Linked DNA regions of Homo sapiens: region 1 is linked to region 2. The links come from fine-mapping of genetic effects on gene expression. Tissue or cell type: whole blood. Region 2 holds a variant in brackets; the other region holds the start of a gene. All regions are shown on one strand. Distances are from middle to middle.

Evidence for each region. PIP is the estimated chance that this variant, and not a neighbour inherited with it, causes the effect.
Region 1: it holds the start of EFCAB12, and the variant in region 2 is fine-mapped to the expression of EFCAB12 in whole blood (INTERVAL, PIP 0.98).

The regions. Positions count from the first base shown.
Region 1 is chr3:129,424,166-129,432,270 of GRCh38, reverse strand. It overlaps EFCAB12 (EF-hand calcium binding domain 12), which reads left to right and starts at 3,635. Exons shown (of 9, transcript NM_207307.3): 1 at 3,635-3,831. The coding sequence starts at 3,783. It overlaps MBD4 (methyl-CpG binding domain 4, DNA glycosylase), which reads left to right. Exons shown (of 8, transcript NM_001276270.2): 8 at 693-1,324. The coding sequence ends at 770. RefSeq lists a silencer at 3,449-3,498 and an enhancer at 7,681-7,730.
Region 2 is chr3:128,523,316-128,531,420 of GRCh38, reverse strand. No RefSeq gene overlaps it. Among named protein-coding and RNA genes, the nearest start is that of GATA2, 34 kb to the right of the region's middle. RefSeq lists an enhancer at 6,324-6,823. The variant T/C (reference allele first, on the strand shown) is at 3,862.

The DNA.
Region 1 (8,105 bases), 900 kb before region 2:
TTTGTCACCTCTGGCCCTGTTCCTGTCATTCCCTATTTGTGTGCTATCTCTAAGCCTGACGTGGTTTTCCTCCTGTCAAAAGTACACCACTACAGGAAAGCAGGAAGGTTTGGGCCTGCAATGTATGCATATTGGGTTTCTCTTAGTGGTCTCAGACTACGTTTGTGGTGACTGGGTCCTGCTTCAGCCCTGTTGAATATGCCCAGCCTGTGGCATGCTGGTGGTCATCCTGGCAGCTGGTGGGTGGCCTGGTATGCTGCCCACTCAGCTTGAGACTCACCCTCATGCATTCAGCCAGTAGGTCTGGCCAAGCCTGAACTGAAGGACCATGGTCCTATCCCAGCTTCATCAGAGCAATCCATTGTGACCTGAGAATCCATTTAACCTCTCGGTCTAGAACCTCCTTCTGGAAAGTGAGGTATTAATACTTGACTCATGTTATCGCCACCCCACATTCTAAGTCATGGTTGAGTAGTAATTTGGACAGTACCTTGTAAATTGTGTGAGATTACCTTAATATAAGGTATAACTTAAAATATTCATGAATCCCAGGAGGTTAAAGGTTATAACTTTTAGGTATGGTATCGTAATGTACTGTCCCCCAGCAAACATTTAAAAAGCCAATTTTAAAAAATGTATTTCTGACTAAGTTACATTAAGGTCTCTGCCTCTGTATCTTATGTTTCTTCCAGGTGCACCCTGAAGACCACAAATTAAATAAATATCATGACTGGCTTTGGGAAAATCATGAAAAATTAAGTCTATCTTAAACTCTGCAGCTTTCAAGCTCATCTGTTATGCATAGCTTTGCACTTCAAAAAAGCTTAATTAAGTACAACCAACCACCTTTCCAGCCATAGAGATTTTAATTAGCCCAACTAGAAGCCTAGTGTGTGTGCTTTCTTAATGTGTGTGCCAATGGTGGATCTTTGCTACTGAATGTGTTTGAACATGTTTTGAGATTTTTTTAAAATAAATTATTATTTGACAACAATCCAAAAAAAATACGGCTTTTCCAATGATGAAATATAATCAGAAGATGAAAAATAGTTCTAAACTATCAATAATACAAAGCAAATTTCTATCAGCCTTGCTAAAGCTAGGGGCCCACTAAATATTTTTATCGGCTAGGCGTGGTGGTGCATGCCTGTAATCTCGGAAGGCTGAGGCAGGAGGATCATTTGAGCTCATGAGGGCCCAGGAGGTCAAGGCTTCAGTGAGCCATGATCATGCCACTGCACTCCAGTCTGGATGACAGAGAGAGACCCTGTCTCAAAAAATATATATTTAAAAAATAAAAATAAAAGCTGACCCCAAAGACAAATAAGATTCCTCTGGCATTGTGTATTGTTGACAGCTCCACACTAGCTCTTAGGAATTGTAGATTCCACCCCAGTATCCATTTGATAACCTAATGTGAATATGGGCCTGCTGCTCCATTTCAGCTCACTCACTCTTTTACCTTGGTCCCTTTGTGAAAACTCATTTCTCATCTTCCATTTGGAGTTTATACCATTTGGCCAGGCACAGTGGCTTACACCTGTAATCCTAGCACTTTGGGAGGCTGAGGCAGGAGGATTGCTTGAGCCCAGGAGTTCAAAACCAGACTGGGCAACATAATGAGACCCCGTCTCTACAAAAAATTTTAAAAATTAATTGGGCATGGTGACATACACTTGTGGTCCCAGCTACTCAGAAGGCTGAGGTGGGAGAATCCCTTGAGCCCAGGAGATTGAGGCTGCAGTGAGCTATGATCACACCACTGCACTTCAGCCTGGATGACACAGCAAGACCCTGTCTTAAAAAAAATAAGTCTTAATGCCATTTTTATTACAAGTATTGTTACAGTTCAAATACCAAAGCATTTACTATTAGAAAGAAACCAAGGGAAAAAACTAGTTACTATGTCTTAATTACCAACTACCATTTTAAGGTATAATTTGAAAATTAAATTGATTGAATAAATGAAAAATAAATCAGTTGTTCAGGAAACTGCCTTTGTTGTAGGGCAGTGTGAACCGAATCAGGCTGCAGTGTGATGCAGAGGTAGTTGGTTGTTTCCACTTTAGTGAGTGTCAGTTTTTAGAAGGATAGATTTTGACCAGAGAACAGGAAAACTGGCCACACCTCCCTCTCCCCAAGGCAAACCCACTTTATAGTTTACCATCACATTTTCATTTAACAAACATCCAAGTAGCATTCACAAAGTGTAAAGCCCTGTGGTGGGGAGGGGCACAAAGATAAACAAGTTCTGTACAGACCCTCACAGAGAGAAAGAAGGGCACCTAATAATGGAAGGGAACAAAAGCGGTAAGGAGTAGGGACAAGACACCCAAAGAGGGTGGAGAGGGGCCTCTGAAACCTTGGGCCCAGCTGGGCCTGGAGGGTGGGGCGAGCTCACCAAGCTCAGGGCATCAGGTGTGGCTTTGTGGTAGGGCTGGTGGTCACATACCTTCCCCCAGCATCTCCATGGGGAGTGTGGGCCCGTGTGAATGCAGGAGGCGAGCTCTGCACCAGGGGAGCTCAGGACACAGCCAGGTTGCTCAGGCTCTAGGCCTGGCTTTTCCTGTTTCTTGCAGGTGAGGTTGCCTGACCTCTGTACCTGTTAACTTGTCTTTTAAAAATGGGATAGTGGTGTCTACCTCACACAATGATGGTAATTATGAAGTTCAGACATGTAGTGCTAAAATGGTACCTGGCTTGCAAGAGTGCTGTGTGAATGTGGCCCATGGCAACAATCTGTTTGCAAGCGTCACAAAGATAGCTTGTCTCAGCAAAGGAATAAGGGCTTAGGTGTTTCTCTTTAACTTTTTAAAAATTGAGCTAAAAGCCACCATTTAACCATTTTAAAGTGTACAGTTCAGTGGTTTAGTACATTTACAGTGTGCAGCCATCATCACTAATTCCAGAAGTTTCCATTTCTTTTTTCCACTCCAAAAAGAATCTCTCCACCTGTTAGCAGTCACTTCAATTACTCACCCCATCCCCTAGCAACCATTCATCTACTTTCCGTGTCTGTGGGTTCGTCTATGCTGAACATTTCACATAAATGGAATCATACAGCACGTGGCCTTTTGTGTCTAGCTTCTTGCTTAGCATACTGTTTTGAAGGTTTATCCATATTGTAGCATGTACTTCATTCCTTCTTATGGCCATCCTATGGATATACCTCATTTTGCTTATCAGTTGATGCACATTTCAAGGGTTTATTATTATTCTCTGGTCCTCAGGTTCTGTAACTCCAAACCATGGCACCCTGCCATAAGCGGGGCAGAACATACCCAACACCTCTATCTGGCCACAGCTCACTTTGGTTCTTCCTAACCCTCTGGAGGAGGCAGGGCCTATTTTTCCTATGAGAAAACTGAGGCCTAGAGATATGGAGACCTGCGGAAGATCCCACATTTCACGGGAAAACCGGAGACTTTCTACACTGGATTCAGGGACTACTGGGCCGAACAAAGAAATCCCGCCTTTCACCAAGCCCAGAACTGGGCGGGGCGTGGATTTGCTCGCTGCCCCTCCCAGAATTGGACGAAAACGAGGTGGGGCCAGCAGGCGCTCGGCAGGGCGGGCTCGCTCTTAACACGTGACAGCGCTCAGCCAATTGGCGCGGGGCGTCCGTAGCCACGGCAACAGGTTGCTTCTGCAGTCTGAGCTGAGCGCCTTTCGCACGACTTGGAGTTACGGTTTATCTGATACCCCGGTACCCCTACGCAAGCAAGCCCACATCGACACACATTCACACACGCCCTTCAGCACCCCCTCCCAGCACCACGACCATGGACGACGACTATGAAGCGTACCACAGTCTGTTCTTGTCGCTGCTCGGTAAGCCCCGGGAAGAAGCGTCTGCAGGGAGCGCTCAGCGCCCTAAGGACGCGTGAAAGTGGGGTGAGGGCAAAAACTCAGCCACAGATATTGTGCCGACCCCCTCTGGGTGAAGGGTTGCCATGGAGTCGGGGGCAGGTCATGTACATTTCTGAGATTTCTATCTGAGCCTAGTTGGAGGAACCAGAGGCCCGACCCATGTGACGGGAGCCCTCCAGCTCGCCCTGTTTCTCTGCAGGACATTAATGTATTCAGTACTGGAGGAGAGGCATGGAGAAGACGTCAGTCTTCAAGGTTTTGGCAGTAATGTGCTGGGGACCAAGTTCTTGGCAAAGCAATGCAGCTTCACGGGTAAAGGACAGAGATAAATGGATAATTACAGAATAAGAAGGGGTAAATGCCGGGCCCAGGGATGACACCCAGGAGTAAAAGGTGTGCTGAGGGTATGGGATGGGGAGGAACAGTTCCAAGCTTTTGGAAAAGATCTTTACACTGGAGCTTAAAGGATAAAAAGGAGTTCTCCAAGCCAAAAGGGGAAGGAAAAGCATTTCGGGCAAGGAAACAGCATGACCCAAGAGGTCTGGTGTCTCTGGAAATGAGGTGAGAGAGGTCAGAAGGGACAAGATCATAAAAGATACTGCAAGCCAGGAGATGGAGAGGCCACTGGGAGTGGCAGGACTGGATTGGGAGCAGTCAGAAAAGACCTGAGACTGAGTTGGCAGACTCAGAATGTTGGTGTGGGGAGATGAGAGCTGGGGGCTATAAAGCTTGAAGACTGAAGGTCTTCTCCATGCCGCTTCTCCAGCACTGAACACATTAATGCCCAGTGGAGAAACAGGGAGAGCTGGAGAGGCTGGCCACCTTTCCCAGGCACACAGGTCAGGGCTCTGGTCAAATGCCCAAGCTAAAGATGCTGGGAGGTGAGGGAGAAGGCCCAGGCTAGAGGGAACTACGGGACTTGGGGGCTGGTTGGTCAGGAAACACAGAAGAGGCAAATAAAGATGGTTCTCAAGTTGGCAGCTGGGGGACCTGGTAGATGGAGATGTCTTCCACAGAGATAAGAGAACGTACTCAGAGGACCCAGTTAGTGGGGGAAGGGGCACAAAGACAAATCCAGTCTTGGTTGGTTGAGTTTAAGATCCTTGTCAGTAGCTGGGCACAGTATCTCACGCCTGTAATCCCAGCACTATGGGAAGCTGAGGCAGGAGGATTGCTTGAGCCCAGGAGTTTGAGAATAGCCTGGGCAACATAGTGAGATCCCATCTCTACAAAATTGTTTTTTAAAGTTAGCCAGGCCTGGTGGGGTGGCTCACGCCTGTAATCCCAGCACTTTAGGAGGCTGAGGTGGGTGGATCACGAGGTCAGGAGATCAAGACCATCCTGGCTAACACAATGAAACCCCGTCTCTACTAAAAATACAAAAAATTAGCCGGGCATGGTGGCAGGCGCCTGTAGTCACAGCTACTCAGGAGGCTGAGGCAGGAGAATGGCATGAACCAGGGAGGTGGAGCTTGCAGTGAGCCAAGATCATGCCATTGCACTCCAGCCTGGGTGACAGAGCAAGACACCATCTCAAAAAAAAAAAAAAAAAAAAGGTTAGCTAGGCTTAATGGCATGCACCTGTAGTCCCAGCTACTCAGGAGGCTGAGCTGGGAGGATCATTTGAGCCCAGGAGTTCAAGGCTGCAGTGAGCTATGATTGAGCCACTGTACTCCAGCTTGGGGAACAGAGCAAGACCCTGTCTCAATTAAAAATAAATAATAAAAAAAGATCCCCGGCCGGGCGCCGTGGCTCACGCCTGTAATCCTAGCACTTTGGGAGGCTGAGGTGGGCGGATCACCAGGTCAGGAGATCGAGACCATCCTGGCTAACACAGTGAAACCCCATCTCTACTAAAAATACAAAAAATTAGCCGGTCGTGGTGGCAGACACCTGTAGTCCCAGGTACTCGGGAGGCTGAGGCAGGAGAATGGCGTGAACCCGGGAGGCAGAGCTTGCAGAGAGCCGAGATCGTGCCACTGCACTTTAGCCTGGGAAACAGAGCAAGAGTCCGTCTCAAAAAAAAAAAAAAAAAAAAAAACAAAAAAAAACCCTGTAAGCCATCCAAGTGGAGATGTTTTAGGAACAACTGGAGGTATAAACTTGGAGCTAATTCCAAGTCAAAAATATTGGTATGGATGTCCCCAGCATACAGAAGGTCATAGAAACATGAGAATGGAAGGGATTATTTAAAAAGAGAAGAGACCCTGGGTATAAGCCTGGAAGCAACAACCTTTAAGGAGTAATCAGGAAAAGAGGGGCCCAAAAACAATAGCCGGAGAGGTAGAATTGGACATAGCAAGAGATTGAATCAAGCCAAGAGCAGGGAGAATTTCAAGAAAGAGTAGAATTGTTTCCAGACACCTATAGGCTGTCTGAGAAAAGAGAGAACAAGTGTGTTTTCTGGGACATCCATGGGGAGGACTAGAACCAAAGGGTAGAAAGTCCAGGGAAACAAATTCTGGGTCAATATAAGGAAATATTTTCTAGCAGTCAGAGTTTAGTGTCCACCATGTTAAGTAGAAAGTTCCACGTCACAGGAGATGTATAAACAGAGGCAAAGTCTGCCAGTGGCATTGAGGAGAGTGTCCCTGACCTGGGCAGGTGATTGAACTAGCTGGCGTCTGAGAGCTTTCCTTGCCAATTTCCTAGGAACATTGTCACATAGTCTCTACCCATAACTACACAATGACAGCCTCTTTTATTATAAGAGCCCATTTCCCTTTCTGTCAATGGACACAGGACTCCAAAGAGCACTAGAATGAAGCTCCCTGAGGAGGTTTGGTGGGCAGGCACCCTTGGAAAGTGGGGTCAGGGGCTGGTGCAGGTTTAGAACTGTGAGGAGAATGACTCGGCCAGGGGAAGCCCTGGGGAATGCAGTGCTCTTCAGAGGGCACAGCAAATGCAAAAACTGAAAACCCAGAGCCAGGAAGGAACAAGGCACCTCAGACAACAGAAAGGAGGACAGCAGCTGGGACCACATGAGTGAGGGGGCGGGGGCTGGGAGGTGACAAGGGAAGAGTGGGGAGCAGGGCCAGTGAAGGCAGCTTTGTAGGCCACAGAAGGAGGCGGGTATTTATTCAAAGAGCACTAAGAATCCATTGAATGGTTTCAAATGGGGAAGGGACAGACTGTGAATTTACATTTGTAAGGCTCTCCTGGCTGAGGGCAGAACATGGATTGGGGGTCTAGGGAGGACCCAAATGGGAGCAGCAAGACCTGTGGGGAGCAGGTTTTGTGTTCCCGTGGCCTGCAGGGTAAAGTTTCAATCTCTTAGCCTGGCATTTGAGATGACGCCAACCTTATTTCCCACTAACCTCCTCCTTTACACACAGTGGGCTTCCAACATGTGGAACTGTCTGGTGACCCTAAAATCCCCAAATCCCACTCCTGACCTTTCCCCATCCCTGCCCCTCCACCCCATGAAGCCAGACCATTCTTGAAGGTCCACATCAAAGACACCTCTTCCTTGATGCCCTCCCAGGTCCCACAGTCAGCATTTCTCCCCCAACTGAGAACATCTTGTTACCCTCTGGGTGCCCCACCTTGTTCCATTGGGTGGACTGAGAACAGGTGAACCACGGTAGGTGCCCAGCCTAGTTTAATCTGCACCTGGTTCAGCACCAAGCCCTGGGGGATTCTCAATAAATACTGATTTGATGAATGACTACATTCTCAGTCATCCCCTGCTGGGAATGAACTTTCTTGTGGTCAAAGTAATGATACATGTGTTGTTTAGAAGTGTTCGCTTCCATCCCTATTGATGTGTAATATCTGTTCTAGCATTGCTATAAAGAACTACCTGAGACTAGGTAATTTATAAAGAGATGAGGTTTAATTGACTCACAGTTCCTCAGGCTGTACAGGAAACATGGCTGGGGAGGCCTCAGGAAACTTACAATCATGGCAGAAGGCAAAGACAGGCACATCTTACATAACCCAAGAAGGAGGAAGTGAGAGCAGGGGGAGGTGCTATGCTTTTGAACAACCAGATCTTGTGAGCACTCGCTCTCATGAGAACAGCAAGGGGGACGTCCTCTCCCATGATCCAATCACCTCCCACTAGACCCCTCCTCCAACAATGGGGATTATAATTTAACATGAGATTTGGGCAAGGACACAGATGCAAACCATACCATGATGTTTACTTTTCTTATTTGCTGACTCTGAAAGGAACACATGGGCCTTGTAAAGAGACTTAACAAATGTACTGAATGTCCACTTTGGGCCAGGCT
Region 2 (8,105 bases):
TATATCAATAATAACATTATATGTAAATGGATTAAACAATCTAGTCAAAAGTCAGAGATTGTCACACGGGAAAAACAAACAAGACCCAACTATACCTTGTCTAAAGGAGCCACAATTTGGAGTTACAGATACAAATAGACTGAAAAAAAGAATTGGAAAAGGATATATTATGCAAACAGCAAACACAAGAGGGCTGGATTGGCTATACTAATTCATGTAAAATAGACTTTTAGCTGGACTGAATAAGTAAAAGACAGAAAAGACTCAATATTTAGAATCAGGAATGAATGAGGGAATGTTACTACTGAACTTACAGAAATAAAAATGATTATAAATGAAAACTGTGATCAATTATATGCTAATAAAATTAGGTAACCTAGATGAAGTGGGCAAATTCCTAGAAAGGCACAAACTACCAAAACTAATTCAAGAAGAAACAAACAATCTGAATAGACCTGTAACAAGCAAAAAGATTGAGTTAGTAAACAACAACAACAGAACTACTCCCAAAGAGAAACTCAGGGCCAGATGACTTCTGGTGAATTCTACCAAAAATTTAAAGAATTTCACAACTTTTTCTCCAAAAAAAAAGAAGATGAGAGAACAATTCCCAACTCTTTCTATGATGCCAGCAGTACACTGATACCAAAACCAGACAAAAAAATTACACGAGAAGAAAACTACAGACCAATATCTCATGATTATGAATGCAAAACTCCTACACAAAATACTGGCAGACTCAATCCAGCAACATATATAACAAATTATACACTATAACCAAGGGGTATTTATTCAAGAATGTAAGGTTAGTCAACATTTAAAAATCAATCAGTGCAATACACCATATCAACAGAATGAAGGACAAAACCAAATGATCATCTCAATAGATGCAGAAAAAAGCATTTGACAAAATCCAACAACATTTCATAATAAAAACATTCATCAAACCTGTAGTAGAAGGGAACTTCCTCAACCTGATAAAGGACATCTACAAAACACCTACTGCTAACATCATACTGAATCATGAAAGACTGGATACTTTTTCTCTAGGATCAGACACAAGGCAAGGATACCCACTCTTGCCACTTCTATTTAACATTATACTAGAGGTTCTAGCAGGCTAGTTGGTCAATTAAAAGAAATATAATGCATTCATATTGATAAGAAAGAAGTAAAATTATCTCTATTCACAGAAGACATAATATTATAAACAGAAAATCCTAACTCACTAGAAAAAGTATTAGAGCTAATAAATGAATTAAGCATGGTTGTAAAATACAAGATCAATATATAAAAGTCAATTGTATTTCTATACACTTGCAATGAACAATCTAAAAATGAAAGTAAGAAAACAATTCAATAGCAAATAGCACCAAAAACCTAAAATCCTTAGTGATAAACTTAACTAAAGAAGTGTAAAACATATAATCTGAAAACTACAAAACATTTTTATTAAGCAATCTAAAGAAAATAGAAATAATTAGCCAGGCATGGTGGTGCATGCCTATAATCTCAGCTGCTTGGGAGGCTGAGGCAGGAGAATTACTTGAACCCAAGAGACAGAGGTTGCAGTCAGCCGAGATTGAGCCATTGCACTCCAGCCTGGGCAACAAGAGCGAAGCTACATCTCAAAAAAAAAAAAAAAAAAAAAAAAAAAAAAAAAAAAAAAGGAAATAGAAATAAATGGAAGAACATCCCATATGCATGGATCAGAAGTCTTAATATTGTTAAAATGACAATATTCCCCAAATTGATGTACAGATTCAACAAAGTCTCTGTCAGAATCACAGCTGAATTCTTTTAATGGTAAAATAGAAAATCTGGTTCTAAGATTCATATGGAATTGTGGGGGATCAAGAATAGCCAAAAACAATTCTTAAAAAGAAGAACAAAGTAGGAGGACTTACACGTCCTGATTTTAAAACTCTCTACAGGCCGGGTGTGGTGGCTTACACATGTAATCCCAGCACTTTGGGAGGCCGAGGCAGGTGAATCACGAGGTCAAGAGATCGAGACCATCCTGGCCAACCCGGTGAAACTCCGTCTCTACTAAAAATACAAAAATTAGCTGGGTATGGTGGCGCACACCTGTAGTTCCAGCTACTTGGGAGGCTGAGGCAGGAAAATTGCTCCAACCCAGGAGGTGGAGGTTGCAGTGAGCCGAGATCATGCCACTGCACTCCAGCCTGGTGAGAGAGTGAGACTCCATCTAAAAAAAAAAAAGAAAAAAAGTACTACAAAGCAACAGTAATCAAGACAGTGTGGTACTAGCATAAGGATAGCCAGAAAGACCAATGGAATAGAATAAAAATCTAGAATTAAACCCATGCATTGGTGGCAAACTGATTTTTCACAATGTTGCCAAGATGGGGAAAGAATAGTTTTTTCAACCAGTGGTACTGGGACAACTGGGTAGACATATGCGAAGGAAAGAAGTTGGACCCTTACCTTACACCATATAAAAAATTGACTCAAAATGGATCAAAGACCTAAATATTCACTTCCATACAGTTTATCCATATAACCAAAATCCACTTGTACCCTAAAGCTGTCAAAGAAAAAAATAGACCTAAAACTATAAAACTATTAGAAGAAATATAGGAGTAAATCTTCAAGACCTCAGATTTGGCAATGATTCTTAGACTGAACACCAAAAGCATAAGCAACAAAAGAAATAAATAGAAAAATTAGAAATTTGTCGAAATTAAAAACTTTTGTGCTTCAAAAGATACCATCAAGAAAGTGAAAAGACAACCCACAGAATGGAATAAAATATTTTCAAATTATGTATCTGATAAAGGACTTGTATCTAAAAATATTTTTAAAAATCTTACAACTCAATAATTTTTTAAAAAACCAAATAAACAGCTGGGCGTGGTGGCTCATGCCTGTAATCCCAGCACTTTGGGAGGCCAATGAGGGTATATCACGAGGTCAGGAGTTCAAGATCAGCCTAGCCAAGACGGTGAAACCCCATCTCTACTAAAAATACAAAAATTAGCCAGGCATGGTGGTGGGCACCTGTAATCCCAGCAACTTGGGAGCCTGAGGTAGAAATTTCTTGAACCCGGGAAGTGGAGATTGCAGTGAGCCAAGATCGCACCACTGCACTCCAGCCTGGGCGACAGGGTGAGACTCCGTCTCAAAAAACAAGAACAAGAACAAGAACAAAAACAAAACAAGAACAAAAACAAAAACAAAAACCAAATAAACAAATTCAAGTCCTTTGGCCATTTCAAAATGGCATTTCTCCAAAGAAGATATACCAATGTCCAATAAACATGTGAAAAAATGATCAACATCATTAGTTATCAGGGAAATGCAAATCAAAACCAGGACACATTGATTCACATCCACTAGGATAGCTATAATAAAAAGTCAAATAACAAGTGTTGATGAGGATATGGAGAAATTGGGACCCTCATACAGTGCTGGTGGGAATATAAAATGGTACAGTCACTTTAGAAAACAGTCTGGCAGTTCTTCAAATGGTCAAGCGTGGAGTTACCCTATGACTTAGAAATTTTACTCTTGGGTATCTACCCAAGAGAAGTGGAAACACATGTTTACATTAAAACTTGTACACAAATGTTCACAGAAGCACTATTCATAATATCCAAAAGGTAGAAACAACCCAAATGTCCATCAACTGATAAATGGGTAAATAAAATGTGATATAGCCATAGACTAGAATATTATTCAGTCATAAAGAGAAAGGAATACTGGCGCTTGTTACTACTTGGATAAAACTTGAAAACATTATGCTAAGTGAAAGAGCTAGTCACAGAAAGACCACAAAAAGAGCTAGTCACAAAAAGAATATAATCCCATTTTTATTGAATGTCTAGAATAGGCAAATTA[T/C]AGGGACAGAAAGTAGATTAGTGGTTGCTTAGAGGTAGGGCATATGGGGGTGATAAGAGGGGTGATAGTTAAAGGATGTGAATTTTTTTTTTGAGCTATGAAAACATTCTAAAATTGATTTAGAAATGCTTGCATAAATCCATGAATATATTAAGCACCACTGAATTTTGCACTTTGAATGGGTGAATTGTATAGTGTGTGAATCATATCTCAATAGAACTGTTATTAAAAACCAAGCAAGAGTGAATCAGAAATAGGCCATCTCTCATTGGGATTGATGCTTAGTTTTGAATTATCTCCACGATTGGATTGAGATGATCGAAGACTGGTAATGTTTCTACCCTGGCTGTTCTCTAGAAGCAAATGTAAATCCTTTCTAAAGAAAGATACCATCATTCAGAACTTTATATTATCTCTATAGGTTTTCATAGACAATGTCTGGCACGCAATTAAAAATCACCAGGCAAATGAGAAGATGGGGTGTGATTGAAAACACAAGAAAAAGGACAGAAGAAACAGGCTTCATTATCTTTTAGGTTTCAGCTTAAACATTAGTTCCTCAGGAAAGTTTTTCTGAACTCCCTGGAATTATAAGTCCCTAAGCACATTTAGTTCCATTCCACCCTATGCTTCCCCTGGTTACTTATTCAACGTCTGCAAGCAAACTGTATAACCATGTTCAGTATATAAGTTGTGCATAAATTAGGATTTAACTTGTCCTATTCACAATAGGAAAGTCATAAAATCAACTTGAAAGTCAATCCATCAGCAGTGGATTGGATAAAGAAAATGTGGCACATGTACACCATGGAACACTATGAAGCCATAAAAAAGAACAAAATCATGTCCTTTGCAGCAACATGGCTGCAGCTGGAAGCTATTATCATAAATGAATTAATGCAGAAATAGAAAGCCAAATACCTCATGTTCTCACTTACAGGTGGAAGCTAAATCTTGGGTACACATGGACATGAAAATGAGAACAGACACTGGGGACTCCAAAAGGAGGGAGGGAGGGAGAAGGGCAAGGACTAAAAATCTCCCTATTGAATACTATGTTCACTCTCTGGGTGACAGGATCAACAGAAGCCCTAACTCCAGCATCATGAAATATACCCTCCCCTCTTTTTTTTTTTTTTTTTTGAGACAAGGTCTTGCTCTGTTGCCCAGGCTGGAGTACAGTGGCACAGTCATGGCTCCCTGTTGTTTTGACCTCCTGGGCTCATGCAGTCCTCCCACCTCAGCCTCCAGGTGCACACCACCATGCCTGGCTATTTTTAAAAATTTTTTTTGGTAGACATGGGGTTTTACCATGTTGCCCAAGCTGGTCTTGAACTCCTGGCCTCAAGGGATCTTCCTGCCTTGGTCTCCCAAAGTGCCAGGATTACAGGTTTGAGCCATTGCACCCGGCTGAAATATACCTTGAAACAAACCTGCACATGTACCCCCTGAAACTAAAATTAAAATAAAAAAGAATTTAACTTGTTATAGAGTTTCAGTCATCTCTCACATTTCCTCTGAAAAACTTATATATATATATTTTTCACTTACCATGTTAAAGTAAAATTTTACATGTAACATACATACAGAAAAGTAAAATACATATAGAAAAACGCACAACTCACAACTGGTGAATTTTCAGAAACAGAACACACCCTTGTAACCAGAATTAGACCATCCTAGGATCCCAGAGACCCTCTGGGATCCCTTCCTAGTCACCAGCCTTTCCCCAAAGTGTAGTGAATTTCTGTCTTCTAACACCTGTCTGTCAACGTTTCCAGGATTAGTTTTGTTTGCTTTAGTTCAATGTATTTTCAAAGCTTACAAAGATGCATGTGCAAGAACGTTCACTGCAATTTCGTTTATGATAGCAAAAGATGGAAAAGAATGAAAATGTCTATCAATAAGAGACTGAGTAAATTTATTATAGTCCTTCTTATAATAAAATTCTATGTAACCATTAAAAGTAAAGATCCAGATATGAATCTACTAACATGGAAAGATGTCCAAGATATGTCAGTAAAGTAGAAAATCAAGTTTTATATCTGTCTATCTATATCTCATTTATGTAAAAAAATTCGTATTGATTTGTGTGTTTGCAAATGCATAGCAAATATGTGTCCACTGTTCACAACTGGGAGAAGGGAATGGGCTAGGAAGGGTGGAAATTGCGCTTAAAAAATATGGGCATCTATTTTTTACAAGGAGCATGCATTCATTGTGGAATTTTAAAGGCAACTTAACAATTAAGAAAAAAACCCACAACACCTGAAACTTGCCTTTGGTGTTAACGCGGCTGAATTGAAAATTGTATTTATTTACTAATGAATTTTCACTGGCCTGTATCTATTAAACTGACAAATGTGCATCCTGTCTGACATAGAGATTCCCCTTCTTTGGGTATTCTCAAAGTAGCCTTTGTGTATACACACCAGAAGGCATCAGTGAAGATAGCCATTGTTTGTAAGAGCGAAACAATAGGAATAACGTCAGTGTCCAATCATAGAGGAAGAGCTAAGTAAACCATGATGTAGCCATTCACTAAATAATGTAGTAGTTAAGGAGAATGAGTGGCTCTATTTATTAGCATGAATAGGTCTCTAAGACAAATCTTTGAGTGCAAAAAGCAAGGTACCGAGTACTGTGCAAAGCATCATAACCCTCCTCTGGCTATGCATACATATGTACATAGGGCATATGAAAACATCTAGAAGGATGCATTCCAACCTGATGTCCATTTTATCAGCCCAGGAGGTGGTGAGTCTAATGTGCAAGGTTTCAGCCTGAGGGCTGAAGGCAGCCAGGTGTGAGCTTGAAATAACATGAACTTTCCTTCTCCTGAGCATGGACTTCCTGTCCGTTATGGCATGTAATCCTCAGAGGCTCAGAGAAGGGAAGGGACTTGTGCAGGGCCACACAGAGGGTAGGTGGCCGAGCTGGGATCAGCTCCAGGTGGGTTTGGCTTCAAAGCCCGTGCTCAGCCCACTTCTCCCTGGGGCAGGTGACGTGGAGGCTCAGGGGAGCTGGAGGGACTCAGTGGGGAGGGGAGGGGCCTCCTCCTCACCGGGTTCCCTGCTTGGTCTCAGAATTCCTCTCCTCACTCTGCTGAGCAGCCTGATGGGTGAAGAGCACTTTCAGGCCAGGGGCACAGACATGCTGGGGGTTCCCTTTAGGACATCCTTCTCAGCATTCCATCTCATCTGTGGAAGCTCTGGGCAGGAGGAAGTTCTTGTGGATATGGAGCTGGAATCTTCCTCTGTGGGAGTTCCCCACAAGCCCCAGTGTTGCCATCTGTGCCCTGTAGGCCGCTTGCTTCCTTAGAGGGATGGTGAGAGGGTGCCCAGCACTGCCCTTCTCCAGGCTGAGCCACCTCAGCTCCTCAAAGGGTGGGCCTCCAGCCACCTCCCTTTTGCAGTTATCTCCTCGAGACCCTTGCCCCGGGCTGGGCCTGTCCCCTCTGAGGTGGGCCTCCTAGGGAGGATCGGCTGCTGATAACCAGATGAGGCTGTCTTCTGGATTCTGTAGAATGGGAAGGAGATCCTTGGAGGAGAAGATGCCAGCTCTGCCGGGGTCTCGTGGGTCATGTGCTCCCAGGGTGACTTCAGGGAAGACCTGTCATGGTTCTCGACACTCCACAGCCTGGGCCACTTTTCACACTGCCAACACGGAACCAGAGTCTGTGGCCAGCGTGGCCAAGCCAGGCACCTCTGCTAGCAAGGCACATCGCTCGGTGGTTTCCGTAAGTTGGTGGTGGTTGCATAACTACTTCACCAACTGCCATGCCAGATATATTTTGCAACCCAGCCCGCTGTGCCACACACGTCGCGGGCACAGCCAGGCCTCCCACAGCGGCGGGAGGAAGTCTGAGAGTGAGACTCTGACAGCGCCTCCCAGGAGCCTTCCACAGGACACCGCCTCTCCCCAGGCCCTGCATGCACCCCCAGCTGGGCAGCGCAGGAGGCTCCTGGGGCCCCACTGTCCTCTGAGAGGACACCATCCTCTTGGGGATCAGGTGGAGATAGGCCCCGAAGTCCCACTGGAGGGAGACAGCCACCCTCAGTCCACAGGCTGGATCCCACACAGGCCACAAGCCTGGAAAGGACCTGCAGACACACGGGGGAAGCTCAGCATTGTTCCAGGAGGCATGGGAGGGGGGGCTCCAGAGCTAGTCCGGAGGACAGGTGGACCCATAGCCACCTGAGAGGAGAGAGGGAGAGTTCACCCTCATGCAGGAAGAGACAGGA